7 linked regions of the Homo sapiens genome follow. The protein of the gene in region 3 purifies or fractionates together with the protein of the main gene of each other region. This does not show direct contact. Each region holds a gene or a part of one and is shown on either strand. Other genes may lie near its edges.

What was found.
Region 1: the proteins of MYH13 (region 3) and P3H2 purify together in Homo sapiens (affinity purification with mass spectrometry; one large-scale study listed by BioGRID and IntAct). This does not show direct contact.
Region 2: the proteins of MYH13 (region 3) and YAF2 purify together in Homo sapiens (affinity purification with mass spectrometry; one large-scale study listed by BioGRID and IntAct). This does not show direct contact.
Region 4: the proteins of MYH13 (region 3) and ITGB4 purify together in Homo sapiens (affinity purification with mass spectrometry; one large-scale study listed by BioGRID and IntAct). This does not show direct contact.
Region 5: the proteins of MYH13 (region 3) and SVIL purify together in Homo sapiens (affinity purification with mass spectrometry; one large-scale study listed by BioGRID and IntAct). This does not show direct contact.
Region 6: the proteins of MYH13 (region 3) and ZFC3H1 purify together in Homo sapiens (affinity purification with mass spectrometry; one large-scale study listed by BioGRID and IntAct). This does not show direct contact.
Region 7: the proteins of MYH13 (region 3) and CCDC174 purify together in Homo sapiens (affinity purification with mass spectrometry; one large-scale study listed by BioGRID and IntAct). This does not show direct contact.

The regions. Positions count from the first base shown.
Region 1 is NC_000003.12:189,987,940-189,992,269, forward strand, and holds part of P3H2 (prolyl 3-hydroxylase 2 isoform a precursor), read right to left. Parts: intron 1,100-4,330; coding exon 968-1,099; intron 1-967. UniProt on the Homo sapiens protein: Prolyl 3-hydroxylase that catalyzes the post-translational formation of 3-hydroxyproline on collagens. Contributes to proline 3-hydroxylation of collagen COL4A1 and COL1A1 in tendons, the eye sclera and in the eye lens capsule.
Region 2 is NC_000012.12:42,161,347-42,165,676, forward strand, and holds part of YAF2 (YY1-associated factor 2), read right to left. Parts: intron 420-4,330; coding exon 267-419; intron 1-266. UniProt on the Homo sapiens protein: Binds to MYC and inhibits MYC-mediated transactivation. Also binds to MYCN and enhances MYCN-dependent transcriptional activation. Increases calpain 2-mediated proteolysis of YY1 in vitro.
Region 3 is NC_000017.11:10,366,180-10,370,509, forward strand, and holds part of MYH13 (myosin-13), read right to left. Parts: intron 1-4,330. UniProt on the Homo sapiens protein: Fast twitching myosin mediating the high-velocity and low-tension contractions of specific striated muscles.
Region 4 is NC_000017.11:75,723,629-75,727,958, reverse strand, and holds part of ITGB4 (integrin beta-4 isoform 1 precursor), read right to left. Parts: intron 3,266-4,330; coding exon of another isoform or gene 3,256-3,265; coding exon 3,177-3,255; intron 765-3,176; coding exon 682-764; intron 556-681; coding exon 454-555; intron 309-453; coding exon 104-308; intron 1-103. UniProt on the Homo sapiens protein: Integrin alpha-6/beta-4 is a receptor for laminin. Plays a critical structural role in the hemidesmosome of epithelial cells. Is required for the regulation of keratinocyte polarity and motility.
Region 5 is NC_000010.11:29,523,003-29,527,332, forward strand, and holds part of SVIL (supervillin), read right to left. Parts: intron 4,055-4,330; coding exon 3,959-4,054; intron 1,714-3,958; coding exon 1,470-1,713; intron 1,026-1,469; coding exon 449-1,025; intron 1-448.
Region 6 is NC_000012.12:71,653,199-71,657,528, forward strand, and holds part of ZFC3H1 (zinc finger C3H1 domain-containing protein), read right to left. Parts: intron 4,104-4,330; coding exon 3,687-4,103; intron 1-3,686. UniProt on the Homo sapiens protein: Subunit of the trimeric poly(A) tail exosome targeting (PAXT) complex, a complex that directs a subset of long and polyadenylated poly(A) RNAs for exosomal degradation. The RNA exosome is fundamental for the degradation of RNA in eukaryotic nuclei.
Region 7 is NC_000003.12:14,661,762-14,666,091, reverse strand, and holds part of CCDC174 (coiled-coil domain-containing protein 174), read right to left. Parts: intron 1,065-4,330; coding exon 969-1,064; intron 456-968; exon of another isoform or gene 30-455; intron 1-29. UniProt on the Homo sapiens protein: Probably involved in neuronal development.

The sequences.
Region 1 (4,330 bases), on a different chromosome or scaffold from region 3:
TTTATTATTTAACACATATAAACAGCAGAATTCTATGAGTTAATTCTGATTTTTGTACCGAGTTTGGGTTAAGTAAACATCCTGAAGGTGATCTTTGCAACAGTAATGTACCATTTTATATATAATGTATGAGTAACATAAGTGCTTTTAAAATGTTATTTTTCATTGCTGCAGTTTGTGGTAAACTGGTACTTCAATGCAAAGTCCTTCATAGAGTCCCAGATGTTCTGGAGGAAGCCCCTTAAATCCTTCACTATACAATTATAGCACATCCTACAGTAGCAAACTACTAAAAGGAACTAACAAGGATGTTTCCAATATAAACTTTTCATTATAGAAATATTTAGCTATTACAAGGGAAATTTTAAATGTCTGTATGCCTTGTTTTCAAATAGTTCACAACATTGTATTTCTTCTAATGGAAATTTACAATATACGTATGTGTGTATATATATGTGTGTGTGTGCATGTATGTGTGTATAATAAATACATACACACACACACACACATATATATATACTCTGAGATGACTCTGATTTTTAAAAGGAATGATAAAAATTAAGCAACTCTCTCATCTTTGATTCACTGTTTATGACTTGAGCACGTGATTCACTGTGTGCCATCAACGCCAGGATAATAAATAATGTTTTGTTTTTGGAAAGGAAGAGGATTTTGCAAAGTTCCTTTTAAATTCAGTTCTAAAAAAATTAAGTCTAAAAAACCATGCAAAATGTCAATCTAGTATAATTTTCAGTAAATTATCACAGCATTAAATTTTGTACTTTGCCCATTGGTGATATCCCCTTCTGCTCTTCTTGTCCTGCAGCTCAGGAGAGAAGAAATGCATAAATTCCTATTGCTTTCATAATAAACTGAAGAAGTCAGAAAACTCAATTACAAAAATGTGATGTCTGTAATGATGAACCACAACCCCCCAAGAAGTCTTCACGGATGATCCACGCTTTACCTCGATAGTAGGCAAACTGTAGGTAATCATAGTGCAGAGGAAGAAAATTCTCGATGGGAGAGAGGCGGCCAGGGCGGGTGGCAAGTTCCCTCACACATTCATGCTGACAAACAAGCACCTGCATGTAGTGATCTGGAAGACAAGAGCCAATACGTGTGTTCCTCCAGGTTGCTGAGTGCCCAAACGTCAACGTCACAGCCACAGTTACACAGGTCATTCCTCACCTCACCACACTGGAAGACCAAATTATTATAATCCTCACTTCCGGACTGCAAAACCTTTTTACAAAGAAAGTAGGTGACTTGCCAAGGTCTCCTGGTCAGCGATCACTAGAACGACAGTAGATTCCGAATCCTCCAGCTCACAGTCTGTTCTCTACACCTCACTTTTCCCTTCCCATGTACACTTTTTATACCCCACAGTCCACTTTACCCCACCTACACCCAGCTGAATGTCAGTTTTCATATTTAACAACTTTGGGGTCTCTCTTTGGATATCTTGGATGGCTCGAAGTGCCCTGGAATCGGGAATGGAAGTTCAGATGCTAGTAAATGTTAAGGAACAGTTTGGAAAAAGAAACCACCATGGGCATGGAAAATTCAGGCTGAGAAGTGAAGCAAAAGTGCTCTTTTTCTTTCTTAACATTTTCAAGCCAAATTGTCCTAAAAGAGAAATAAAAACTCTTTTTTTTTAAACCTATTGGTCAGAAACCTATTCTATCCAGTTATAAATTAGTCTATCGCCTAGACATAGTATATTCTAATACTAAGTACATTGTATATTCTTTACCAGAGACTGGTAAAACAGGCAGAAGGATGTAAACTAAAGGAATGAGCATCTTATTTCCTATTTCTCTTCACTCCCCTTTCTATTGCTCCCATTCTTCTTGCTTGAGAGTCCTGAAGTGTTAGGGTCTTCATGCCACCTTTGGCTCTGGACTCTATTTTATCAAAGCCTGAGATGAGGAAACACAAGTGGTGAATGTCCCAGAGAAGAAAATGCCTCCTACGTTTCACCTTGACTGATTTTTACAATGAAGATGGATGTATTTTCCAGCAAGAAAGATTCATTCATGGCTGCGCTGAGTGGGTTCTTTTGAGAATGATGATAAAATCATTTGATCTCATAGCTGTGCAATTTAATTTACCACAACTGCCTTTTTTTCAAAAGGTTCTCTGTTTAGTCTGAGTTTGGCTTGGATCTTGGTGATTTTGCAGAGGGACCCCAAAACACAACAGGAAGGAAACGTGCATTTTCTGGTGTGGGGGAATGTGCCAGTTTTGTATAACTTGGCTAACTGAATCATTTATAGCACAGCTAATAGAATCCCTAAAGCCCATTGGTTATTAACCCCAGTCAGGGGATGTGAAGGAAGAATGAGTTCTATTTATTTGATTAGCATGTTAGAAATAAATAACCAGCTGTTTCATTTCTTAAGAAAACAAAAATAAACAACCTTCAACTGTTTTCTCCTACTCAACTTACCATTTGCATTTCTATTTACTTTCTAATACACATTCCTTTTAATTCCAAGTGACAAGCAAAAGGTAAAGGCGAAAGATACCCACCGAGAACTCAAAATCTGAATGGAAATATTTTTTCAAAGCGGATACAAATAGCAGCAAAATAGGAGTGACAGAAAGGTATCCTTTAGGGTTTCATAGCAGAGCTAGTAATAAATAACTGCATTCAGCAGCCATTTGTATTTTTCCCGAACTGTTAATGTCTAACTCTAAAATTCAAATATTCTGATTTTCTAATACATTTGCTATTTAAAAAGCCAGTTTTATACCTAATTTAGGACAATTTTGAAGCAGACAAGAATTTACATAGTGAGAGCTGTCATATTACTTTTATTAGGTATATCCCTTGCCTCCTTTCTATCTTAAATGACATTGTGCAATTAATATGTTTTTAATAAGTTTGAGTCTTAAAAATTAAAGAACCTGAGTTATGAGATCTCTATTCTTTTCCAGCTACCGACATGCTGTGGTGACCTTGAGCAAATCACTAAATATTCATCTGTGGGAAATCGTCGGTCCATTTTCCTAAACCAGATCTAGGACATTGGCCAAAACTGTTCAGTGGCCATTGGTGGAAGCAGGTGTAGAGGCGAATGTGGGCGTGAAAGCAGGATGCATATCTCCCCACAACCACAACACAGTTAACTATAATAAAGGAAGAATCTGCCATTCCCAAATACAAGATCAAGTGTAGAGAAATAGCAATTAAAATGTGAACCACACATAAAACTGACATTCCAAAAATTTAGGCAACTGGATCTGGCAGAGATCCAAAAAAATAAAACTTTCAGGAAAATATCCTCAATAATTGAGATTGCTGTATTGAATTTAGGTGAACTGAGTTGATTTTGGGTAACTGGGTGTGTCACAAATTGGTCATTCGTCACATTAATTTTCAGTCTACTTCCTAGTCTAATTTTTGATAGCTATACCCTAATTGTCTCTATAAGAAACCTTAAAAATAATTCTTAACAATAATCCTAAACCTACATTCTCATAAACATGGAGTATTTAACCATTTTAATCCCTGCTATGAGATAGATGGATATATCATCTCCTTCCTTCATTCATTCATTAATCAACCCATTCATTTAACCAGTATTTACTAAGTAAGTATCTACTATTTGCCACTCACTCTTCTTAGGCACTGAAGATTGAGCACTAAACAGGACAAGGCTTTAGCCGAGAGATAGAAGAAAACAACACTTTGAAGATCTGTAAGTGGAAATAAGCATGGCATATTTAAGGAATCAAAAAGCAGGAGAGAGAGTGAGAGGGAGAGAGAGAATGAATGAAAACATACACAAGTGCCCAATCATGAAAGTTCTTATTAAAGAATTGGATTTTATTCCAAGTGGAGTGTAAACCATTTGGGGTGTTTAAACCAGATCTGTGAGCAGAATTTTGTTTTTTTAGAGACTGCTCTGTGGGCATTTGGAGCAAAACCAGAACAGGACATGAAGAGCAACAAGGAGGCAATCACTGTTGCTTTGAGCCAGGGTGGTAGCAAAAGGGGTGGAGGGAGTTAGGAAGTGTTCAGTGCTATTAGGAGATAACCTCTATCCAAGTTTGGTAAAAAATCATATGGGAATAGGAATTAAGGAAGATGTTGGATTGAAAGGTAACTTGGTTTGAGTTATTAGGTGAGTAGTGCTTTTTGTTTGTTTGTTTGTTTTTCCTTTGAGATGGAGTTTCGCTCTTATTGCCTAGGCTGGAGTGCAATGGCACCATCTCGGCTCACTGCAACCTCGGCCTCCAAGGTTCAAGTGATTCTCTTGCCTCAGCCTCCTAAGTAGCTGGGATTACAGGCACCCACCACCACACCTGCCTAATTTTTTAT
Region 2 (4,330 bases), on a different chromosome or scaffold from region 3:
AACAAAACAAAACAAAACAAATCCAGACACAAATGTCTTCCAATCTCGTAAAAAGAAAAAAGCATCATCACATTTAAGCTTGTATTTCTGGCTTCTGTGTTTAATTTCCTATGTATCTTTCAAACTCAGTAAAACCTTTCCTGATACCTTATAATAAAGGAGACCAAATATTTTACTTCCACTTTGTGTATATTAGTATGTCAAGGTTAAAAAAATTAAATGGTTTTATTATTTCAAAAATGTCATAAAACACTCTTCACATTTACCTGGTTTTCTTATGGCTATTCTTTTTGCTAGTTGTTTCCTTTTCACTTTTTTCTTTTTCTACTTTATCTTTTTTCTCTTTCTTTGACTGTGTAGGAGGCACAAACTGCTGAGTAACCTGCTGTGCAACCAACTGGGAGACAGGTCGAGGTTTCCTGTGTGCATGTTAAAAAGAAAGGTATTTTAAATTACAACTTAAAACATAAGTGCTTTATGACAGAATATCTCACATTATGAAAACAAGTTAATAACAATAACTTTCAAGTATAAAAATTCCTCATATGTAAGGTAATTTAAATATACAATTTTAAAGATATGTATCAGTTTTTCCCGTTCAACAAAAATGGAACAAACTATAACAATTAAAATTTATAGTCTAAGATATATGCTCAAACATTAGAATACTGTTACGTAAATCAACATAAGAAATTATTTTAAATGTATATCAAAAAAAATGGGATGTACCCATATAAACATGAGTTCTAAAAATCAAACTTCAAAGTTTTCACTGAAATAATAATTTATCCCTCCTTCAGAGAAGGAAATACCTGACCATTTGTGACAATGGCTATCTGTTCTTTAAAGCTTTTCATTTATTCATTTAATAAACATTTATTATCAAAATTTCTCACTCCTTATTGCTTAAATCCTTTAAGTTTCTTACATCTCCAGCCACAATCTCACCATGCTCTTTTGACCCTGGAGATCTGCCCAGTCTTTTGAGACTCATCTACTTGCTAACTTACTCATTTAGAAAATATTTATTGAGGACCTACTGTAAGAACTGTTCAGGGATATCTGAAATGTTGCCTGGCTTCAACATCTGATGCTGGTACAAGCTTTCACCTGTCCAGCTTTGCCACAGAACTTGCACAACTGAGGTTAAGGTTCAAAATACAGTCTCTAAGTTCTTAAGAGAGAAAGAAGGATATAGCAAGGAAAGAGGCAGAGGGAAGGAGGGAAGAAGTAAGATAAAAATACATTTTAACAGATGCTCTACAAACAATGGTAACTTTATTGCCTGAAAAATCCTCACCCTTTTTTGGTTAGTACAGTTTTTAAAAAATCTTTTTTTCTCCTGTTCCTCTATGGCAAGACAACATAAAAAATAATGAGAAAATATTGTACAATCTAAGAATTAAAGCTGCATGGCTGAGAGAAAATAGGAAACAGTATGTAAAGCAGATATCAGGAGATGGATAATGAATTTTGCTCAGGGCCTAGACAGTCTGAACTACTGAAAGGATATCCAGGACAGATGTCCAATATACAACTTAAAAAATAGGACTGACATAGAGTTTGAGATGTAGATTAAGAGTTGCACAAATAAAAGTGATATTGAAAGTATGGTAGTTAATGGCTGAGGTTAAAAAAGAAAAGGGTTAAGGTGGTGGTTTTCAAATATAAGGTACATCAGAATCACCAAGAAGGCTTGTTTAGCTTGCTTAGCCCTACCCCGCAGGATTTCTGATTCAGTAGGCCTTGAAGTAGAGCCCAAGAAACTGTATTTCTAACTAGTTTCCAAGTTATGCTGATGTCTCTGGGGACCACACTTTAAAAAAAAGCTTGAGGAAATGCAATATATCTGGTGAATACTGTTACTACTATAAGATAAAGTTTGAGATGGAGAGCAGAGTGGCAGAGTGAAAAAAAACCAAGCTGGACAGATAAGAAGGGATCCCATGATTAAAAGCTAAGCAGTCTGATTTTATCCTTAAGTGATGATAAGTCACTGAAGAAATTCAGACTTGAATTTTACAAAGATTACTGGCATTAGTCTGAAATAGAAAGGTACTACACTACAGTAGAAGTAAAAATGTGAGACTAGTGGTCTAATAAATGATCATGTAATCTCTGTACCTAGTGTTGTTTGTTGTTATTTTCTAACCATCAACAAATTTTCTATAGTGGTTCTTTTTTTCTGTTCTTGAGTAGTTGCATATCTTTCTCTTTTTATCCTAGGCTTACCTAAATGTATACTACACAACTATTCCATTTTTATTCTTATTTTAATGTGAAGGTTGATTTTCACTTAAAGATTATGATTTTGTACCTCAATTCTATGATTATTTCATCTGGTTCAATTCTGAGAGAAAAGAAGCACAAAACATAAATGTATATAGTTCAATTATTCAAATAAAGTTCTCTGCTGCTCTCTAGGAGCTAAAGAGCTTTCACTGAAGGTAGGAGGAACACAGTTTATGATGATCTTTTTACAACATCGTAAGTCACTCAACTCCATGCCCTATTAAAAATAAAGCCCTTCTATCTCCAGGTATCTTAAGGTTTGTGATCCCTTTTCTATTTGATGAGAAAAATCAGGATAGGAGGAAATTTTAGAGGTAGGAAATAGTTAACTCAGGAAATAAAGGGCAGAGTATCATTTATAAAATATACCCTTTTATGTTCACAGATTTATCACTCATGGTTTTGACAGTACACTTTTAGTAATGCCAAAGGTTCTGTGATAAGGAGTTGATGTGCACAAAATGGTTGCCTAGTTAATAAATGACTACTGTCTAGCCACTGGCCAACTACAGTCCATCATCTACTTATTCACATATGCCATGATTAGACTGTATTTGTCAGATATGATATTCACCAATTTGGGGATCCCTATGTATCTTTCATAGATAGCCCAAATAGAAGGTATAAGTTTTGCAGTCTGTTGATTTACTATAATGTAAGAAAAGGGGGAACATTTTATTACGCATTAGGACAAAATATTTTTGGAGCTGGCTGACCTTCTGTGTGAGCAGGAGGTCAATACATGTTGGCTTCATATATGCAATTTTCAACTACGGTCTGCCTTCCACCCCCACTGACAAAAATCCCATGTGCTAAATATTAGAGGAATAATATTTTCAGCTTGATCAACTTCATCATAATTTAGCTTTGTCATGTTGGACAGGTAAGATGAAAGAAAGGAAAGAAAGAAAAAGAGTATTAAAAACAATGACATTCTTTACTAAAAAGAGGCAGCATAACTCAAATTTCAAAAGAAGTAATCTGCTTAGTAACACCAAAATATATGGTAAATTGAAGCGATATGGTAAATCTCATCAAAAAAAAAAGGCTGGACTAAATCCATACATATTGTGAATCTGTTGATACTCTGGCTAACAAACGCCCAAAAATCTAACCTAGGAAAGATTTTATAAAAAACCACCTGTTTACAACCAAGCGTGGTGGCTCACACCTGTAATCCCAGCACTTTGGGAGGCCAAGGCAGGCAGATCATTTGAGTCCAGGAGTTCGAGGCCAGCCTGGGCAACATAGTGAAAACCCATCTCTACAAAAAAAATACAGAAATTGGCCAGTAAAGGTACGCGCCTGTAGGAGGCTGAGGTGGAAAAATCGCTTGAGCCCAGGAGGTGGAGGTTGCAGTGAGCCACGATCACACCACTGCATTCCACCCTGGGTGACAGAGTGAGACCCTGTCTTCTGGAACAAAAAAAAAAAAAAAAAAGAAAAGAAACTACTTGTTTGATAAATTTTATTGCACATTTACATGTGTCAGGCACTAGGTAAGGAGATTAACCATGAACAAGACAAACATAGGCCCTGCCCTCATGCGCTAAAAATTAAAAACAAAAAAACTGTGTGTTGTGATAGAGAAAACAGGAGGAGGAGTTATTATAGACAGAGAGGAAATAACTTCTGTCCATGTTTAAATGGTCAGTATACCAGGAGAAACAGGTATCACAATGGACCCTTTTAATAAGAGAACAATGAAACGACTTCATTAAGCATTTTATTAAGACTTTAAAAGAGAGTAAACCCAATTTCTTATTCTATAATAACTTGGTTTTAAAGTTATCTACACCTCGAATGGCCAAAAGGTTTTTGTTTTTGTTTTTGTTTTTGTTTTGAGATTGAGCCTAGCTCTGTCGCCCAGGCTGGAGTGCAGTGGCGTGATCTCAGGTCACTGCAAGCTCTGCCTCCTGGGTTCACGCCATTCTCCTGCCTCAGCCTCCCAAGCAGCTGGGACTACAAGTGCCTGCCACCATGCCCGGCTAATTTTTTTTTATTTTTTATTTTTAATAGAGACGGGGTTTCACTGTGT
Region 3 (4,330 bases):
TTTGCTTCTCTCATTCCCCCTCGGCACCTCTTCCCTCTACTCCACTACCTATTTTCCTCAAGTCTCTTTCCTCTTTCCTTCCCTTCTCTCCTCTTTTCCTTCCCACTTAATTCTATAACTGACATAAAATGGAGTCAAGTCATACACACACACACGCACACCCACACATATCTCTCCATATCTCTCTTAAGAAATAAATCTGTTTTTTTTTTTTTTTTTGAGATGGAGTCTTGCTCTGTCTCCCAGGCTGGAGTGTAATGGCACAATCTCGGTTCACTGCAACCTCCACCTCCCGGGTTCGAGCAATTCTCCTGCCTCAGTCTCTTGAGTAGTTGGGATTACAGGCGCCCACCACCACACCCGGCTAATTTTTGTATTCTTAGTAGAGATGGGGTTTTGCCATGTTAGTCAGGCTGGTCTTGAACTCCTGACCTCAGGTGATCCGCCCACCTTGGCCTCCCAAAGTGCTGGGATTACAGGTGTAAGCCTCCATGCCCCGCCTGAAATACGTCATATTTTTTGAATAAGGTCTTTTATGTCCTCTTTTTATAGTGGGAAAGTTGAACATGTTATAGTTCTCTCCCCCATCTTAGCCTTTATGAAATTGCTCTCTTTATTGGTAACTGGCCATTGTTGAAATATCCTTTCCTGTGATTCTGTGGGGTTCTGTCTTACAGAAAGAAAAGCATCCACTTCCCATGGGGCCTTATTCAGATAAGTTGCATTTTAGTTATACTTTGTTCAGTGGCTCTGCTGAACCATCTGTGGGTTCATGGTTAGGTTTTCATAGTAAGGGACTGGAATTCAAATGCAGCACCCACAAATAAGACTCTTGGCCTGCAGCCATCATGCTGGTTTAGAGTCTCTCAGTTACCACCTGGAGGATGAGAAAGAATTCATCCACATGGCTTTCTTCTCTCATTTCTTTGAAGATAGTCCCTAATGTAATGGCTTAGGTGGATTTCGCTACAGCAGCGGTTCTCAAACTTTGTGGTTTCAGGACGCCTTCGCACTCTTAAAACTAAATGACTGAAAGCCCCATAAGATTTGGTTTATGTAAGTCATATCTATTGATATTTACCATATTGAAAATTAAAATTGAGAAATTAAAAAATATTTATTCATTAACTAAAAATTACTGTCAAATTCATTACATTAACATAAACATTTTATTTTATTATTTTATTGAGATGGAGTCTCAATGTGTCATCCAGGCTAGAGTATAGTGGCGCAATCTCAGCTCACTGCAACCTCCACCTCCCGGGTTCAAGTGATTCTCCTGCCTCAGCCTCCTGAGTAGCTGGGATTATAGGTGCCCACCACCATGCCCAGCTAATTTTTGTATTTTTAGTACAGACGGGTTTTCACCATGTTGGCCAGGCTGGTCTTGAACTCCTGACCTCAAGTGATCCTCCCGCCTCAGCTTCCCAAAGTGCTGGGATTAAAGGCATGAGCCACCGTGCCTGGCCAACATAAATATTTTAATAAAAATTACCATATTTTCCAAAACAAAAAGACTAGTGAGAAGGGTAGTGTTTTCATTTTTTGCAAATCTCTTTAATGTCTCCTTAATGGAAGACTGTTGGATTCTCATATCTGCTTCTGTATTCATGCCATTGCTGTATGTTTGGTGAAAGTAAATATAAAATATTTAGCTATGTAATTCAGAAAAGGAAAGAGTATTTTAGTCACCTTTTCAAATAATTGTGAATTTTCTTCTCAGATACTCTACCAAAACTTGACAAGTGGTAGTTTCTTAAAGGCTAGTTGCAATGCGGAATCTGAAGCCATATCAATAAACATTTTGTACTCTGTTACATTATAATCCACTAGTCTGTCTTGCATTTTGAGTGGATCTTCTTTTCCCATATGTGAATTTCATACAGTGGTTGTTTGGAAAATACTGGTTCACTGAATTATATAGTACTTCCAAATGTGGACACATTTTCTTACACAATATTAAAAAAATTACAATCATCAATATCACCAGTGTGATATCATTTGAAAATTCTTTCAGTACTAGGAAGTTGTCAAGCTAATGGTGGCAAATACATGTTTTCCTGTATGCATTCTCATTTATACTTGAAGGCTCAAAGTTGTGATTTATAACAAATGCTGTCAGTTTTTTCCTCGAGACGACAACCACATTGTTCCTTTTGGAGAACATGTTTGCCAAATATCCAAGTCTGAATAACCATAGCTTGTCTGCTAGTTGGTCTTTTAAATAAAAATGGTGCTTTATGAATAAAATGGCCAGTTCAGCTTGCAACTCACACAAATGCACATGTGCTTTTCCAGGAGACAACCATCAAACTTTGGTGGACTTCCCATTTCATCACATAAAATTGTTAATGAAACTTTTTAGTGCAAGTGTATGGTAGTGAAGAATACAGTAATTACTAATACAGTTTGGTGCGGTGCCTTGATTTGTAATAAGGTACCAGCCATTTATTCATCCTTGCTTTTGCATCACTCATGCAGTGAAAATGGCAAATAACAGCTGGGTATTATTGTGAAAGAGTTTTAGCCTCAAGTGCCTCCTAAAAAGTTCTTGGGACTCTACAAGAACCCACAGACCACACTTTGAGAATGGCTGCCCTATTGCATAAGGGAATCCTGACTGGTTACAGGTTTACGACCTTATAATATGTAGCTTGACTTAGCGTTAAGCATGATACCCAAAAGTGTTGGAAGATGATTTACTTCAAAACCCTCTGCAACATAATCTCTATGGCTGGGACCAGGGAATCTGATTTTTTGATAAGGTCCTCAGAGAGATGTTTGGGAACTACTGATTTAAAGCATTACTTTGCTTGTATGAAACTACTCTGTTTTTCTAAAGCCAAAACCATGGCACAGTCTCATTGCTTGTACACAAAATAATTTTAGGCAAATATTTCTTAATTTAATATTTGTATGCTTATTTTAAAGCCTATTACCTTATTTTATCAAAATTTGCCATCAATTATAACTTCCACAAATAAAAAAATGCAGCTAATTTAAACTGCAATGCTTCTTTCATAGATTGTAATATGCATCCTCATTTCAGGGATAAATTTGTAAAAAATATAAAAAAATCAGAATTGATGGAAATAGGGTAATATTTGTTTAACACTTAGGAAGCGTGCTACATCCATGTATTCTATGATATAAATCAGTGTTTGTCAAACTTAAATGGGCATATGAATCCTACTGTGAATATTCACTAGGTCTGGAGTTGGGTTTGAGCTTTTAAATATCTTACAAATTTCTCAGCTAATGCTGATACAGCAAGAATATAAGGTAACTTTAAAAACAAATAAGAAAAGAAAATGAATCAATGTAAATACAAATATTAAGTAAATTGACAGTATTGGTGTTAACATGGCTATTGCAAAACTTGTGATGGCAATAGGAGAATAAAGTCTGAAGTCAGGGAAAGGCTGCCATAGCTGATAGTTGAGCCATATTTTTAGTCCTCCTGGAAAAACAAGGCTTTTCCCTGTGGGCCTCACTGACAGTTTTCAAGTAGAGATTTTTTCTCCCTTCATTTACTCTAACCGTGACTCAGAACCCAGTATCTCCTAGTAGTATTACCTAGATGATGTTTGAGTTATCCCTCCATATTCCTGCAATGGTGCATCTAACCTAGTTGGATACTTTTAGGCACAACTCTTTTCCCTTTGATAGGCCAAAGATTCTTCTTGCTTTAAATTAAAATCTGGCTCTCCATTTGTTCTCCATTTGAACAGCAGAAAGAGTTCAAACCTTCCTACGTGACAACTCTTCACCCTTTTGATGGCTGTTCTGTGTTCTGCTTAGCTTTATCTTCTCCATGCTAAATAGCCTCAACTTCCACTGGTTCTTCTATGATGTGCTTTTGAATCCCTTACCATCTCAGTCACTCTTCCCTGAACCCACTCCTGTTAATCTTTTAAAGTGTGATATCCAAACCACATGTCACCCTCCACTGGAGTGTGCCCTCACCTCTCTTGACCTAGGTGTCATGCTTGAGGTGGTGATTGCCTGTTGGCAGCCACGTCTCACACTGCTGACGCACCACTCCGTGTCGAGCAAAGCCCCTCAATCCTCTCCGTGCATGCAGTTGCTAAGTCAGATCTTCTCCCTATATTTGTGCAACTGTGAGTTGGGACCCAGGGGAAGACCATTCATTTTTGACTGATAAACTTCACCTTGTTAGATCTGACCCAAGTCTCTAGGCATGACTCATGCTGCCCACTGAGCACCACCCTCTAGAGTTTCCTTAATTAGCCTCTTCTCTGTTCCAAGAGCAGGACCTGCTTCCAACGTTGCATAGCTGTGCCCCTTCAACCACTCTGTTCCTGTCTTT
Region 4 (4,330 bases), about 65 Mb from region 3:
TTTCCTTCTGGGTGGGTGCAGCTGTCCTGAGTCCTGGCCTCCCAAGCAGACGCCCACCTGTCCCCCTCCTGCCCTGCTGTCCTCCACTCTGGCCCTGCCGTACCCAGGTTCTGCCCCATCTTCTTGAGGTTGTCCAGATCATCGGACATGGAGTTGGAGAAGTCCATGAGGATGTACAGGTCCACGGGGCTCTCCAGTGGCTCAAACACCTCCAGCTCAAAATGCCGCTCCTCACCGGGCCGCAGACGGACCCGCAGGCCTTGGGGGGACATCTGGCTGCGCCGCAGGGTGGTGTCAATCTGGGTCTCCTGCAGCCAGTGGAAGGGGACAGCTGGCTAGAGGGTCACTCCGGAGGCCCGATGGGGGCCCAGCCCGGCCAAGGGGCACTATACACCCCCATAAATAGCCAGGCTGAGCATGGGGAGCCCCCACCCCAGTCCCCACACCAGGCACCTCTGTGATTTGGAAGCTGCTCTCCATGACCACGATGCTCTCCCGCTGGCAGCCCGCGGCCAGCAGCTCCGCCTGGGTGTTGCAGCGCCGGTCCCTGAACATCTGGCCAGAAGGACAGGGGGTCACTGGGGGCAGCACCCATTCCCTGGCTGCCCCAACCCTAGATTCATTTCCACCAGCTATTCCCGACCCTTGCCTGTTCCACACCAACCCGGGCCAGGTCCTCACCTCGTCTGTGCAGTAGGCGCAGTCCTTATCCACACGGACACACTCCGTGCAGCTCTTCACTGGGGCCTTCTTGCAGCGGTTTGCTGGGGGGACAGATGTGGGCACATGAATGGGGAGGCGCTCAGCAAAGGCAAGCACTTTCCCACCTGCACCTTCACCTGGAGAGATGGGGATTCCCTCCTTATGTTATTTATTTATTTATTTTGAGACAGAGTCTCGCTCTGTTGCCCAGGCTGGAGTGCAGTGGCGTGATCCTGGCTCACTGCAAGCTCCACCACCCGTGTTCACGCCATTCTCCCACCTCAGCCTCTGGAGTAGCTGAGACTACAGGCGCCCGCCACCACGCCCGGCTAATTTTTTGTATTTTTAGTAGAGACAGGGTTTCACCGTGTTAGCCAGGATGGTCTCGATCTCCTGACCTTGTGATCCACCCGCCTTGGCCTTCCAAAGTGCTGGGATTACAGGTGGGAGCCACCGGGCCCGGCCTTATGTATTTATTTTGGTTTGTTGTTGTTGTTGTATTTTTATTTTGTTTTACTTTATTTTTCAGACGAGTCTTGCTCTGTTGCCCAGGCTGGAGTGCAGTGGTGCGATCTCAGCTCACTTCAACCTCCGCCTCCCAGGTTCAAGTGATTCTCCTGCCTCAGCCTCCCGAGTAGCTGGGATAATGGGTGGGCACCACCATGCCTGGCTAATTTTTGTATTTTTAGTAGAGATGGGGTTCCACCATGTTGGCTAGGCTGGTCTCGAACTCCTGACCTCAAATCATCTGCCCGCCTCAGCCTCCCAAAGTGCTGGGATTACAGGCGTGAGCTACTGTGCCCAACCTGCATTTCAATTTTATTTAGTTTTGAGATACGGTCTTGCTGTGTCGCCCAGGCTGGAGTGCAGTGGCATGATCACAGCTCACTGCAGTCTCGACATCCTGGGCTCAGGCAATCCTCCCACCTCAGCCTCCCAAGTAGCCCAGCTAATTTTTTATTTTATGTAGAGACAGGGGCTCCCTATGTTGCTCAGGATGGTCTCATATTCCTGGGTTCAGGAGATCCTCCCACCTTGGCCTCCCAAAGTGCTGGGAATTATAGGCGTGAGCCACTGCACCCAGCCGTTCCCTATTTTACAGAGGCCAGGGGTATGTGATCTGCCCCAGGTAGCACAGCTAGAAACAAGCTGTGATTTCAAACCTGGGACTTCCCACTCAAGCCAGAAGGACAGAAGGTGGGGACTGAGACAGTGGCACTGGCACACTCGGTGCTGGCACACCCTGGCCACCCCCTGGCCTGCTGCCTCCTCAGGTCCAGCCAGACGGTCCTCAGCCTTCCCCATTACCTTTGATGAGCTGCACCTAGCACCCTTTTCAGGTACCTCCTCCATCACAGCTTGTGCCTCACGGCGAGACCACTGCCACATGGCCTGTCTGTCCTCTGAGCCCCTTCTAGGGTGAAGGGAATGGTGTCTTGTTTATCACGGTAGCCCTAGCACCCGGCACACCTGGCACACAGTGGGTCCTCAGTAACGAATGAAGTAAAACTCTAGATTTCCCTTTGGCTCTGCTCAGTTAAAAATCACAGTGAGGACCTACTGTGTGCACCTGGTGTACACAGTAAGAGGTCTCCTGGGCTTCAGGCAATGGTGTGCTGGTCAGTGTTTAACAATGGCTGTGGTGGCCAGTGCGATGGCTCACACCTGTAATCCCAGCACTTTGGGAAGCCGAGGTAGGAAGATTGCTTAAGCTCAGGAGTTTGAGACCAGCCTGGGTAACATAGTGAGACTGTCTCTACAAAAAAATTGTTTTTAATTAGCCAGGCATGGTGGTGCATGCCTGTGGTCCTAGCTACATGGGAGGCTAAGGTGGGAGGATTGCTTGAGCCTGGGAAGTTGAGGCTGCAGTGAGCCACGATGGCATCACTGCATTTCACCGGGACGACAGAGTGAGAGCATGTTTCTACATATACATTGAATTAAATAAAAAAATAACAACGGCTCTGGTCTCTGGTGCTTGACGTGTAGCGTTTGCCAATTTCTGTGGTGTAAACATTTCTGTCGTGGTCTATTTCAAGCCACCAGCAGGACCCCCTCTAACAGACAAAATTCAAGTGGTAGGAGCTGGCTCCAGTGATTTGTCCACTAGTGACACTCAGAGAGCAAGTGACACGTCAGCAGTGCCTCTCTTCTCCAAATTCCTATAACCCTCTTGACTACACCTCTGGGGCCTCAGTGCATCCTCTGGGTGCCTCAGTCCTGGGTGGGTGTCTCCTCTTTCCTCTAGACACAGCCTCCTTCGCTCCTATTCTCAGGCCCCGTGGTCAGGGCTCAAGCTTCTCTAGGCTGAAGAGCTTGGAGCCTCAAGTTTTCCAGCCCTGAAGGTGGGCAGTGGTCAGTTGCTGAATGGCCAAGCGTGTTTAGGTGAGACACCGTGAGATCCCCGTGCAAGGGCAATGCCTGCCCAAGGGATGATCCTGCCAGGAGGGGGCTGCAGGGCAACGTGGACTCACCCAAGGTCCCAGAGAGGCTGACGCTGATCAAGGCTGCCAGGAGCAGCCTGGCCCATGGGCTGGGGCGTGGCCCTGCCATCCTCTTCCTCCTGCAGAACAGCAACAATTGACACATGAGGCCTCCACAGCCATGGTCGGTGCCGTCAGCTTCCTCTCGCTGCACAGCTGTGGGAACTGAGGCTCTGAGCACCAACAATGTGACCAAGGGCGCCCAGCCGCCAGAGGCAGGGCCCTGGGCCTCGGACTCCTGCCTTTTCCGCTGCCCTGTTCCGTGCCATCCCTGCAGTGGCCTATGCCCTGCCCCGGGAGGCCCCCTCCAGCCCTCAAGGACTCTGGTTTGCGAGTTTGTCCCAGTGCCAGGCCTCTCAGCACTGGGCTCCCTGAGGGCAGATGTGGGTTTATTCTTCTTTGCCTTTTAGCTCCCAGTGAGCCTGGGTCAGGCTTGGCCATGACAGGGTCATCCAATGAGGGTGCCTCCCTGAGAGGGGGCCGCAGCTCTGCCTCCTGCTCCTTCTGTCCTGGCCCACTTACCCTTTGGTGAGGGTGGCACAGCCGGGAGGAGAGGGGCCCCTCCCAATATCTGGGGCCTGGGGCTGGGCCACAGCTGCCCGCAGTGGCTTACTGCACCGGGTTGGGTTCTGCAGTGACTGCCCGGCCCATCAGGGTGGGGTCTGAATCATCTGCCCTCCCCTGTACCTCTGCCTGCCCCAGAGTTAAGTTTTCTGGGCCCCTGAGCTGTTCACCCTTTCACAAGTTAGCCCAGAGTGAGACATGCACACACACTGTGGCTCCCCTCAAGGCGTCCCCAGCGGCTGTGGGTTCAGTATTAAACCATCCTAAGTCCTCAGCGGCCTTCAGGGCAGGACTGGACATCCCTGAGGCCCTCTAAGAGATGCTCAGCCTGAAGCCTGGACAAGAAAAGAGGCTGGCGGCAGAGCCATCCAGGCCTGCAAGGCCGGGGCAAAGGTGAGCACCGCGCCTCTTTCTCTAGGGCCAGGTCTCCCAGGGGCCCAAGCCTCTGCCCTGCCCACGGGCCCTCCCCATTGAATCCTGTCTCAGCCCGGCTTCTGGGGCAGTGGCCACCCCAGGGTCTGGGGGCTGGGGTCCCCGAGGTGCTGGAGAAGCCCTTCTCAGGCCAAGGGCAGGAAGGCGTA
Region 5 (4,330 bases), on a different chromosome or scaffold from region 3:
AAACGTAGAAAGAGGATGAAGGGCCCACGCAGTGTAGCTTGCTAGCCTGCAAAACAGGCATGCAGGAAGAAGCACTCTAGCGATTCAGAGACTGGGGTCAAGTCTTTCCTGAATTCCTTGTGCTTACCCAGCCTGGACCTTTGGGGTCATCAATTTCTAAAAGGGGCCACCAGAACTAAGCAGCTCAGAAGGCCATTGTGTGAGTGACCAAAGTCAACAGAAACTCCATGAAGATGTGTGAAAGCTCTTCCAGTAGTTTTATTGCTGAAAACTTGATGTATCCTCTAGTCAGATCCAGGGAAGAATAGGATTCCCGCTGAACTTTTAACCAATACTAGCTGTAAACTGCCTATAGAACTTTGTTAAAAGCCATCATAGACACAGGACAAATCAAGCAGAAACTAAAACCCAGTGGCTTTCTAAAGCTTTAGGGGCACTGGTCACTTACCTCTTAGTGAAAACTTCCTTTTCATAACATTCTCCACCTCCACCTTCTCTTCAAAGGGCAGCCTGTCCCTCAAGTCCAAGTTTCCTTGTGCATTCATTTTAGCCATGGAAAATTCCTTCGGTTCATCCCCGAGGTGGGTGATGGGAGGGTTCGCCCGTTCCAGGCTTCCTCTTCTGGGAACAGCATATTTAGATTCCTTATGGCTGTCTCCTTCCCTGGCTCGGTTCAGGATGGGGTAGGATGCTTCTGCTTCCTCAAAGGACCCATACTTCTCCATCCCACTGTCTCGACCTGTCAAAGCTCTCTTGCTTTCTGTCTCTCCATATTCTCTCAACATTCCCTTGTTCTCGCTACCCTCTACCAAAGGCTGCCAAGCTTGCGATTTCAGAATGCTTCTAACTGGAGAGTCCGAATTTTCTATTGAAGAAGAAAACTTATAGTCAGTGGCACTTGCATTGTGGTCAAGAGGTGGCTTTGTGCGAAGATCTCCGGCATACATTGGAGCAACCGTGGATGCTACGGTAGACACTGATGTGTTCACGGCAGGTGAGAAAGGAATGAGCTTTCCACTCTGCACCTGGAAGGACACAGTTAAAAATTAAAAAGCTGCTTGAAAAATATCATCTATATAAATCCTGGTTTATGAATTGACAGAAGCTGAAATACTCGATTTGATGCAGTTTCACTGTTTCTCTTAGTGGAAAACCATTCCTGGACATAGTTATATAATACGTCTCATTAAACAAAATCCTCTGGGTGAAACACAGTTGGGCATACTATTTTTTTCTCTCCAAAATGGACTCATTCTAGATATTTCAGCAAGCAAGGTATGAAAACAAAAAAAGAGCAACATACTTGGTAGAATTCTCATTTTTAGGAAGAAAGCTATTACCAAATCACCTACAGGTAGCAGTTTCCTGGTAGAGCACCTTAATTACATCATTGACCTCAGAGGAATACTGCAGTGCTATAATTTAAGAACACACACACACAAACTGCAATCGGACTATAGCACACCCACCTGCTCCACCTCTCCCAGTGTGACTGGCTGAGTTTGATAGCGAGCGTTCATTCTCCTCTGTCTCGTGTCTATTCTGTTCCGGGTAGAAATCGCTTTTGAGACTGGCTGGGACAATTTGTTAAACAAGGCCAACTTTTCGGCCAAGCTTAGAGTGGAGGAATCAGGTTCTCCTTGCTCAGCAAGCTCTTTGCCCTCATTTGTCTGGTCCTTGGCTAAGGCCTTTTGGTGAGCAGAGGCCTGCAATCTGAAAAAAATAAAATGTCAGCAACACATATACCAACAAACAAAAGCACACCGCTAAGTTTCTACGTTAACTTTCTGCCAAGTGTCACATCATTTTGCAAAGGGCTTCTTTTTCCCTAAGCACGTCTAGGACAGAGGCAGGCAGCTGTTCAGCTACTCAACAAGCAGAGTCGGCACAGGACACTTAGCATCATCACTTCTACAAAGAGCAGACTTTGAGCTCCGAATTATTTCTACAAAACGAATTTCCTGTTTAAGACATTGAAGTCAGCTTGGCTATACCTTATCTTAGACAGAGAGGCGGCATTGTTAGTATCGTAATAAGTAGAATGAAAGGGAGTCACAAAGTATTACCTACGGTGTATTTAGACCTTATCTAAAGATATGGTTCAGAAGGTGGTCTTTCATTTTAAATAATTAGGAAACGATATAGTCCTCTGTCAACAACATAACAGAAGGTCTTGATTTTTACTTGCTAAAGACAAATGGCTTAATTTTTAAAGAGTCACTGCTTCAGCTTAGCATTTACTCTCATAGGTTCCTACCAGTTTTCTAAAAGGTACTTAAATCTGCAATTTCCAGTAACCAGAGGAGTAAAGAAAATTTCAGGTGATTATAAATCCCTCCAACTGGCCAGGTCTGGTGGCTCATATCTATGGAAGGCCAAGGCAAGAGGATCACTTGAATTTAGGAGTTGGAGACTAGCCTGGGCAACATCGTGAAACCCCATCTCTACAAAAAATATAAAAATTAGCCAGGCTTGGTGGTGTGCACCTGTGATCCCAGCTACTCAGGAGGCTGAGGTGGGAGGATCGCTTGAGCCTGTGAGGTAGAGGCTGCAGTGTGCAGTGATGAAGCCTGGGCGACAGAGCAAGACTCTGTCTCAAAAATAAATGAATGAATACATAAATCAGTAAATAAATAAATAGCTCCCTCCAACTTCCAGCTAGAAGAGAAGGAAAGCCTGAAGTCTTCACGGTCAATATGAATCTCTAGGGGTTTGTAATGCACTATATCTTCTGTCCCTGACCGATCCAATTGTCAGATCTAGTAAAGGAGATATTCTGCCTTGATTCTAGTGAATCCCCAATGCACAGGCTATCCCAGGCCAAAGAGTAGCCAGCTTCCATATTCCAGGTGTATAATGAGGCCAGTGACAAAAAAGCCACCTGAGCCTCAGAGTCCTCCGTGGACCTCGTGCAGTAACCAGGAGGGCAGGGAAACCCACTTCTCCGGGAGGGCCCTGCTGTGGGTGTACCAGCTTTATCCCGGCACTGCCATTATTTTTAGCTTTTGCGGTTTGGCTCATATAACAGTAAAATGAAGGGATATGACCTGATGTGAGGACATAATTTTAAAGCACCACAATCTGAAACACGACAGTAAAACATCTACGTTTAGACACTACAAATTGTTATTTTCCCAGTCCCAAAATATAATGGCATTGACTCTATAAATTAGAAAGAGGGAGGATTGTTTTCAGTCTGTATTTGTGTCTACAGGTGTTTGAAAAAGACTGGGTCTTATCAGCATTTCAACATTCAGGTTAATGTCTCATTTTTCTTTTTTTTTCTTTCTTTTTTTCTCTTTCTTTTTTTTTTTTTTTTTTGAGACAGAGTCTTGCTCTGTCACCAGGCGGGAGTGCAGTGGCACGATCTTGACTCACTGCAACCTCTGCCTCCCAGGTTCAAGCGATTCTCCTGCCTCAGTCTCCCAAGTAGCTAGGATTACTGGCACATGCCACCATGCCCAGCTAATTTTTGTATTTTTAGTAGAGACAGGGTTTCACCATGTTGGCCAGGACGGTCTCAATCTCCTGACCTCGTGATCCACCTGCCTTGGCCTCTCAAAGTGCTGGGATTACAGGCATGAGCCACCGCGCCTGGCCAATGTCCCATTTTTCTATTAATCTTTATTAAGTGCTATAACAGTATTTAGATGAAGAACAAAATTTTTGAGGGATGACCATTATTATGAAAAACAAACAAAGCAACTGGATACGTGAGTTAGTGTGATCCTAGTTCTAACACATAACATATGCAGAGAGACAAAATGTTTTCCCACGCACGCCAGCATGTGGTTATCAGCACCTTGTGCTATGACAAAACAAAATGCCACGCATTCTGGAACAACTCACGGCATTGACTTGTTTGTCAAACAAACGACAGACATTCAAGACTTTAGGATGCATCTGCTGTTCGGCACCTTTGCACCGGGTGCCGCATGCATCTGTATCTGTCCAGTACCTGGCAGGCTGCACAGCGCTCCTAGCTACAGTGGGGCTAGGAAGTCTCGCCATTACAGGGTGGGTGCCCCCAGAACACGAAGCGGGGATAGGTTCACTTTAAAAGCAATTGCCAAAGAGGAAACATTCATAAGGAGAGAGAAGAAAAGAAGCATTAAGGACAGCATAGTTTTAAATTCAGAAACGTTAAATCAAAAATTTTAACAGAATATTTTGCTAATTATTTTTGGGGAGAAAAAATCACGAAAGAACTTCAAAAGCAAATACAAACTCAGGAAATAAGAGATAGTGGCTACCCAAAGCAAATGGGGTAAGAATAGGTGTTCAGAGCTGGGAGGATTTACTCTGTCTTGAGAATACATGTCTTGGTGTA
Region 6 (4,330 bases), on a different chromosome or scaffold from region 3:
TGATTTGAAAACAAAACAAAAATGAAATAGTAAAACAAAAACTGTAATTGAAATGTAAAACTCAGTAAGTGGGCTTAAGGCAAATCGAATACAGCAGAAGAGAGAATCAGTAAAACGAAAGATGTATCAGAGGAAATTTTCCAGAATTTGTCAATTACAAAGTGACAGAAACTTAGAGAAATGAAGAGACATGAAAGATAAAGTATGATGACTTAACATAACATACATCTATACAGAGTTCCAAAAAAGAGAGAGAATGGGATAATATTCTAAGAGATAATGATCATTTTTTCAGAACCACTGCAAGATCCAATCCAGATTCAAGAAACAACAAATTCCAAGCTGGATACATAAAAAGAAATCTACAATCAGCACATCACACAGTTCAACTACAGAATATCAAAGACAAAAAGGATCTTTAAAACAACCAAAGAAAAAAGATTATCTTCAAATTGGAAACCATTAAGACTGATAGATGAGTTTTGAAAATCAACAATGGAAGCCAGAAAATATTGTCAGTAAGAATATAATTAGGGGCTGGGTGTGGTGGCTCATGCCTGTAATCCCAGCACTTTGGGAGGCCAAGGCAGGCGGATCACTTCAGGCCAGGAGTTTGAGACCAGACTGGCCAACATGGCGAAACCCCAGCTCCACTAAATACAAAAATTAGCCGGGCGCAATGGCATGTACCATAGTCCCAGCTACTCAGGAAGCTGAGGCATGAGAATCACTTGAACCCAGGAGGCGGAGGTTGCAATGAGCCAAGATAGTGCCACTGCACTCCAGCCTGGATGACAGGGAAAGACTTTGTCTCAAAAACAAACAAACAAAAAGCATATAATTAAACAACCTAGAATTCTAAACCCAGGGAAAATATCTTTTAAAAAGAGTAAACGGAAATCGTTTTCCACCCAGCAAAAACACATTTTTAAAAAAAAAGTCTAAAGAATGTATTTAAGCACAGAGCATGGTGGCTCACACCTGTAATCCCAGCATTTTAGGAGGCTAAGGCAAGAGGATCATTTGAGCCCAGGAGTTTGAGACCAGCCTAGACAACATACTGAGACCCCGTCTCTACAGAAATTTTTAAAACATAGCCGGGCATGGTAGTACATGCCTGTGGTCCCAGCAACTCAGAAGGCTGAGGTGGGAGGATCACCTGAGCCCAGGAGGTCAAGGCTGCACTGAGTCATGATCATACTCCTGCACTCTAGCCTGGGCAACACAGTGAGATCTTATCTAAAACACACACACACAGAGAATATATTTATACATATATAATTCCAGACATGATACAAAGAGTGAGCCAAGAAAGTGCTAAATATATAGGCAAAGCTAAGCAAATATCATTCTTTGTATTTCGGGGAAAGAGTAAGGTTCCTGATTAACTTTAAACACTGGTAGGAATATAAGACCAGAAATTTAGTATCCAACTTCCAAACTAGCAAATGAAAAAAAATTGTGTGAAGAAAAATAAGAGCCTAAAAAGAAAAAAAAGAAGAAGAAATAAAACCAAATGTCAATAATCATAAAAAATGTGAGTAGACTATACGTTCAAGCTAAAGGACAAAGATTGTCATACTGAATTATAAATTAAAACCAGCTCTATACTATGTACAAGTAATATCCGAGACATGAGGATACAGAAAGACTGAAAGAGTGGGAAATTATATAAAGAGAAAGATGATGTGGCTATTAATATAAGACAAAATAGTCTTTTAGGCAAAAACATCAGAGATAAAGTCACTACATAATGACTCAATTACCCACCTTCAAAGTATTTAAAGCAAAAAGTAAAAATCACAAATCCATCATCATACTGGCAAATTTTAACAAACTCCTCTTAGTAACTGATCAAGCATATCAAAAAATAAAAAAAGTGAACAACACAAAAAGCTCAAGTAATCTATAAATTCATTTCAAACATACACAGAACTCTTACAAAAAACTGATTACATACTGGACAATAAAGGAAGTCTCCAAGTATTTCAAAAGATTGGTTATCATAGCAATCTTATTTTCTGACAGTATGATTGACTTAGATATCAATAAAAAATACTGCTAGACAACCTACATGTTTAGAAGAAACATACTTCCAAGCAGCCTACAAGTCAATGAAAAATAAAAATTAGAAAATATTCAGAATGAATGAAAAAAGTTAAATAACCCAACTTGAGACAGAACTAAAGTCAAACTTTATGGCCTAAAATGATCTTAATAGGAGAGAGGCTGAAAACTGAGTTTAAAAACTTATGTACTTATTTCAGGGTAAATTAAAGAAGAGAGCAGGGAAAAAAAAGGTACAACTTATAAATACTACAGATAAAAAAGTAAAGGATTCTTAAGAACAATTTTTATAACTTCTGTAACTTACAGGAAATAGACACATTACAAAAAATATAGAGTTTACATAAACTGTCTTAACAGAAATAGAAAACACGAAGTTAGATTAAAACTTTCTCAGAAAAAAACTCCACCCAGGCCCAGACACTTTTATCAGCAAGATCTACCAAGTATCTCAGAATGTTTCCAATCTTAAACTATTACAGAGAATAAAGATGAAAACAGCCCCAACTAATTTGAGTATTATAACCTTACACTAAAAACTGTCAAGGAAAAAGAGGGGGGGGAAATTACAGGCTCTGAACACATAAAAAATTCTAAACAAAACACTAGCAAACCTTCATTTGTAATAGCCGAAAGTTGGAAAAACCCAAACATAATTGGGAAATGGATGAACTACAGTATGATGGGATACACAGAACTACTGACATATACAATTACATGAATGAATTTCAAACACATTATGCTCAATGAAAGAAGCTATAATGAAAGGCAATATACTGTATGATTCCATTAGTGTGACATTCTGGAAAAGGCAAAACTATAGGGACAGATCAGTGGTTACCAGGTGAACTAAGGGCTGAGGGACGGGATAACTACAAAGACACTTGGAGAAACTGTTTGAGGTTGATGAAAGAATTCTGTATCTTAATGGTAGCTGGTGATGGTTACCCACTGTCTACATTTGTCAAAACCTGAAGAACTACACACTTATTCATTTATAATGTTAAAAGATAAATTTTACTGTATATAAATTATATCTTAATAAAGAGGAAAAGAAAAAACAAGCCAAATCCATGATTTAAAAATGGTATATCATAAACTGTATTAAACGCAAGCATACAAGGGTGGTTTAATACTAGAAATAAATTATATAATTCATTACACTAACAAATTAAAATAAATTAGATGCTCATCCCAATAATGAAGAAAACAGATTTTGTAAACTTCAACATCCATTCACGCTGAAAATTTCAAACCAGGAATAGGAGTAAAACCCTCCTTTACCCGATAAGGGATACCTACAAAAAAATTAACATCATATTTAATGGTAAATGTCAAAACCATTTTCTTTAAATTAGGAAACAAAGGTGTCCACTATTATCACTTATGTATAACATTCTATTATAGAGGCCAGAATGTCAGGCAAAAAATAAATAAATAAATAAAGACTAAAAGTAAACAAAATTAGTAATTATTCAATGATATGAATGTCTACATAGAAAGTACAAAAGAATTTACAGATAATTACAATCATTTCAATGAAGTACACTGCCAAAACAAGTAGTTACTACTTTAGAGGAAGAAGAGTCATTACTAACTGAAATATTTAATTCCATTACCTTGACTAGAATCAGTAGTGTCGGATTTCAGGGAAAGTGGTTTTGCTCCATCTTTAACTTTTTTCAAACGGTTCTTATCTCCTGGTAAAGTCAATTTTTGCCTGAGTGGTTTTAATTCAAATGCCTGAAAAGTTTTGACTTGTGTTTTCTCCTCAGGAGCTACTTCTTTACTTGAATCCTTTGTAATACTGACATTATCAGTGCTAGTTTGGTCCTCGAAGTTCAATGTTTTAGGATCTTCCTGCACATTCTCTTCTTTGCTACTCAATGCTAGTTTTTCATCCTTATTGATGCATTCTAGTTCCAACTGTATTTGTTTATACTTTAAAAGCAAATCTTCAAAAGTTTCTTCCACACAGTTTTCATTTTTTGATGAATAATTTTGTTTTCTTGATGGAGACCTTCCAAAACTTTTGGCTGAACAGCATATTAAGGAAACCAGTTTCCAAAAATTTTCCACAGTTAAATTTAACAAAAAAACTTAGATTATAGATGAATTTTCTCCCTTTTTAATTTTTCAAGAAAAATGAATCGATATTTTTAAATTACTAAATTCCATTTAATGTATGTGCAGCTAATGCCCACTTTCATTACGTGCCCATATTTGAATTTAGTAAGTACCATATAAACAGTCCACTTACAAA
Region 7 (4,330 bases), on a different chromosome or scaffold from region 3:
GGCTCAAAGGTTTCCATTCTCCCTTTCTTTCTTTTTTTTTTTTTTTTTTTTTTTGAGACGGAGTCTCGCTCTGTAGCCCAGACTGGAGTGCAGTGGCGTCATCTTGGCTCACTGCAGGCTCTGCCTCCTGGGTTCACGCCATTCTCCTGCCTCAGCCTCCTGAGTAGCTGGGACTACAGGCGGCCGCAACCACACCTGGCTAATTTTTTTTTTTTTTGTATTTTCAGTAGAGACGGGGTTTTACTGTGCTAGCCAGGATGATCTCGAACTCCTAACCTTGTGATCCGCCCGCCTCGGCCTCCCAAAGTGCTGGGATTACAGGCGTGAGCCACCGCGCCCAGCCTCCATTCTCCCTTTCTTATGCCAAGCCAAAGGCTATGTGCTGGATGCCTGAACCTGCAGGACTTGGACAAGGTGGAGTTTCTCCCAACACTTTTCACATAAAAGTTCCTATGGTAAGAGGAATTTATTCCCCTGGATGTTTCAGAGTTATCTCTTAGGTCTTACGTTTTAGAGTTATGTCTTAGGTCTTAGGCCCTGCTGAAAAATCTAGTTATAAGGCCCTTACTTCAAAAATGCAATGATACATAAAGAAAAAGTGAGTAAGTTCTCTCCCTAGAGCCACTTGTTTGTGGGATAATCAAGTGTATATTCTCAAACCACTTGTCTCCACAAAGCCTGGTTTGCTGGTTTCGTTTGGGTTTATTCTGTTACTCTGTTGTCAGACATCCTTCCAAGTAAAAGAGACAGCTCTACTCATCCACCAGTCAGGTTGTTCCCCAAGTGTGGATTATGTGTGTATGTGCATGCTAACCACTAAAAAGTGCTTCAATCAATCAATCAATCAATCAATATCTCCTTACTGGAGCAACAGAGATCATTAATTATAAAACAGCCTCCCCTCACAAAACAATCCCTGTGGCTGCATTTCAGACCTTGGCAGAGCTCTGTATACCACACACACTTACAGTCTCCCCTGAAGATTTTTATCCATCTCCAGCAGATCTGGCAAATCCTTTCTCATACAGCGCCGGGAACGCCCCAAAGAGTCCACGTAATCCACCCTGAAATGAAAGCAAAAAGATGTGAAGAAGGACTTGTACACATGTACAAGCCCCTAAGTCAGGGAGTAGGTGAACAGTGAAGGGGGAAGATAGGCCTCACTACCAAGAAGAGCCCCCAACCTCAGAGACCACTACCACTGATAGGAATATGCTTTTTAAAGCTGACACACAATAAGCTCATTGTGCCCCTTATTAAATATTAGTTTTAGAAACTGTTAACAATAATTTTGATCATTTATGCCTTTGATCTCACAGATAAATCACCCACACGGAATTTTGCTGCAGCATCTACGAACTTACTTTAACCTAGTTGAGACAATTCCAGACATTTTATCAGTATCTTAATAACTTTGCCTTGTGCCTGAGATTCTCAACTTGCTCATTTCCTCACAGTCTTCAAGTCTGACTTTTTATTCTTTCTCTTATTTCCTCTAATTGGTATAATTCTACCCAATGTATTAGCAAACTCTTAATGTAAGAAATGCACAGTATTTTTCAGAGTTGGACTCTTCTTAATTAGGAGGAAGCCAAACACCATACCTCTCTCCTCATCTTTGCTCAAACTAGACAGTGGTCAGACAGCTAAGCCAGGCAGATAGCAAGGCAAAGTGAAATATTCTGACTTCCTACAATGGAAAATACGGACAGATGTTCATGAAAAACATCTCATTTGTATTATGACGCAACAGATATTTTACTTTTTAAATTATGGGCAGAGAACCTCCTAGAGCCTTTAGCAGGGTACCGAATACACAGTAAGGTCCAATAAGTACTAGCTGGCAGACCAATTCAAGGTCAGATTTGGCAGGTATGTGGCTTTGCTTTTGTTAGCAATTTTTTTTCCTCTCAAGCAATGCTGATTTCAATTGTTAGTTGTGATTTAAAAACTGAGTGTTTACTCTAGTACTGAAGCTGATTATCACAAGAAATAAAACCTCCAACTGCAGCAAGCAGTTTCTTTCTTCCTTTTTTTCCCCCCAAATGGATGGGGGAAGAAAACCATCTAGCCAGATGGTCTGTGTAATTATTTACAGTATCTTTACGGAAAGATTTTCTACCACCTGGAATTTAACTATCAAAAGGATTTTACAAGCAATTACAATTCTGGAGCTTAATTTAAAAACAAAAAAATGTGTCAGAACTGCTTGCAGAGCGTCTTCCTTCACCATATGGTGGCATGTGACACCTTCAATTGCCCTCCAAACTCTTCAAATCACTAGCAAATTGCTTGTAATCACACAGGCATTAATAAGCAAAAATTTTTAAAAAGACATTAGACCTTTCAAAGGAGATGAGATTTCTGCTATGAAAAGCAATCATAGACCATTCTGTTTCTGGAGAAGGCCTCCAAAACATACAGATCTCATTAAATAGAAGAGGCAAGACAGTAGTCAGCCACGGCTCCATCTAATCAGCAATCACCCACTGAGCAACCCCTGCAGGCAAACAAAGCTTTCCCCAGGCAAGGAGAGTAATACAAGAGGGCTAACAGCCATGCCATCTTCCAAGGGTCTAGGGAAGTTAAGGCACACACCCATGAAACGCTTATTAACAACACTGGGTACGTAAAGACTACCAAAAGTTTGCTAAAATCTTTTTCTGATAATGAGGCCTAGTATGTGTCAGTAATAAATAAAAGGTAATACCCGAAGAGCAGGAAGTATATTAAGTGCTACCTGACTTCAGATGAGGGAGCAATCACTTAGACATTAGAAATGATAGGCCAGGCGTGGTGGCTCACGCCTGTAATACCAGCACTTTGGGAGGCCCAGGCAGGAGGATTGCTCAAGCCCAGGAGTTCAAGAAGAGCCTAGGCAACATAGTGAGACCTTGTTTCTACAAAAAAAATTAAAAACTGAGGCAGGAGGATTGCTTCAGCCCAGGAGGTCGAGGCTGTGATGAGCCATGATCATGCCACTGCACTCCCACCTGGGTGACGGAGTGTGGAGACCCTGCCTCAAAAACAAATAAATAAAAAAGAAAGAAAGAAATGATGAAGAAAGACACCAAAAGAAGAGACTGCATGTTCTTCTCTTTTGGTTTCTTATAGCTTGCAGGCTGACACCTGTTCCAAATGGTATCAAACTATTTAGATCTAAGTTTTTAAGACAGTAGGTAAAAAGATACCTGTTTTATCCCAATGAGAATGTTATTTCTAAACCAACATGGACACCCTCAGTAGAATGAAGATGCAGTTTCTCTGCCATCCACAGTAGCTGGGACTGCTCTCTTCAGCTCATCAATGACTGCCCACAAGGCCAAAGGCTGACAAAAGATGAACGCCTGCTACAAAGAGTCCTGAGCAGTTCCTAACAAATGCCCACCACAAGGAGGACATTTGAGCCTTGAAAGGAGGATAAGAAGAATCCCAAAGGCAAGAGGATGGGTTCCCAGGAAATTGTCAGAGCATCAGTACAGCTCTCAGCAATTTCAAGCACTGCTGAACAGTTTCCAAACAATAATATCTTAGGTAGAAAAAAATCATTGTAACAGAATTCCCATTCTGGTCTCTCTACTTATTGATACAAAGTCTCTTTAAGGAAAAGACGAGTTTGGTTCTTCTATCATTCATCTACATATAGGCAAAATTCAGGAAAATGACAATAATAAAAGTTTACAAAATGCCTGCTTATACTCCACAGGCTGCACTTTCTTGTGTAGCCTGGAACACTTACTTCTTGAAGGGGGGCGGGGGGGTGTTAAAGCAAAGGGCCATGGGAATGAGGCATTATAATCTCTATTTTATAATGGAAGATCCTGAGCCTCAAAGACTAAGGAACCTGATTAAGATCATACAGCCAGTAAAAGGTGCAGATGGAACCATCCAAGGCCCACGAGTCCACACCACAGTGCCAAACAATGTCACAGGCGGAGTAAAACACACTGTGCCACCTCTGCCGGCTTCCTTCTCCTAGATGACAGCTCTCCACCATGTCAGAACAAGAACACGGGTAAGGCAGCAGCACAGGTACAAAAGGAAGGCGCTCTGCCCTCACTGTTTCATGTTAGTGAGCCAGGCAAGCCAAGTCTGCCAGGCACTGGGTTTCCTTCGGCCTGGCACAGAGCTGGGCACACAGCAGAAGCCCAGTCAGTATTTGTAATTATATGTAATTATTGTAATTATTGTAATTATGTCTTCATTTGAGCTACTGTTTTTACAACTATAATAACCTAATCCAACCTAACTTAAAGGGAAGTCTCAAAAGAACACCCAGGAAGAATAAAGAGAAATGGCTCGATAACAACCCAACAAAATCACTCCCAAA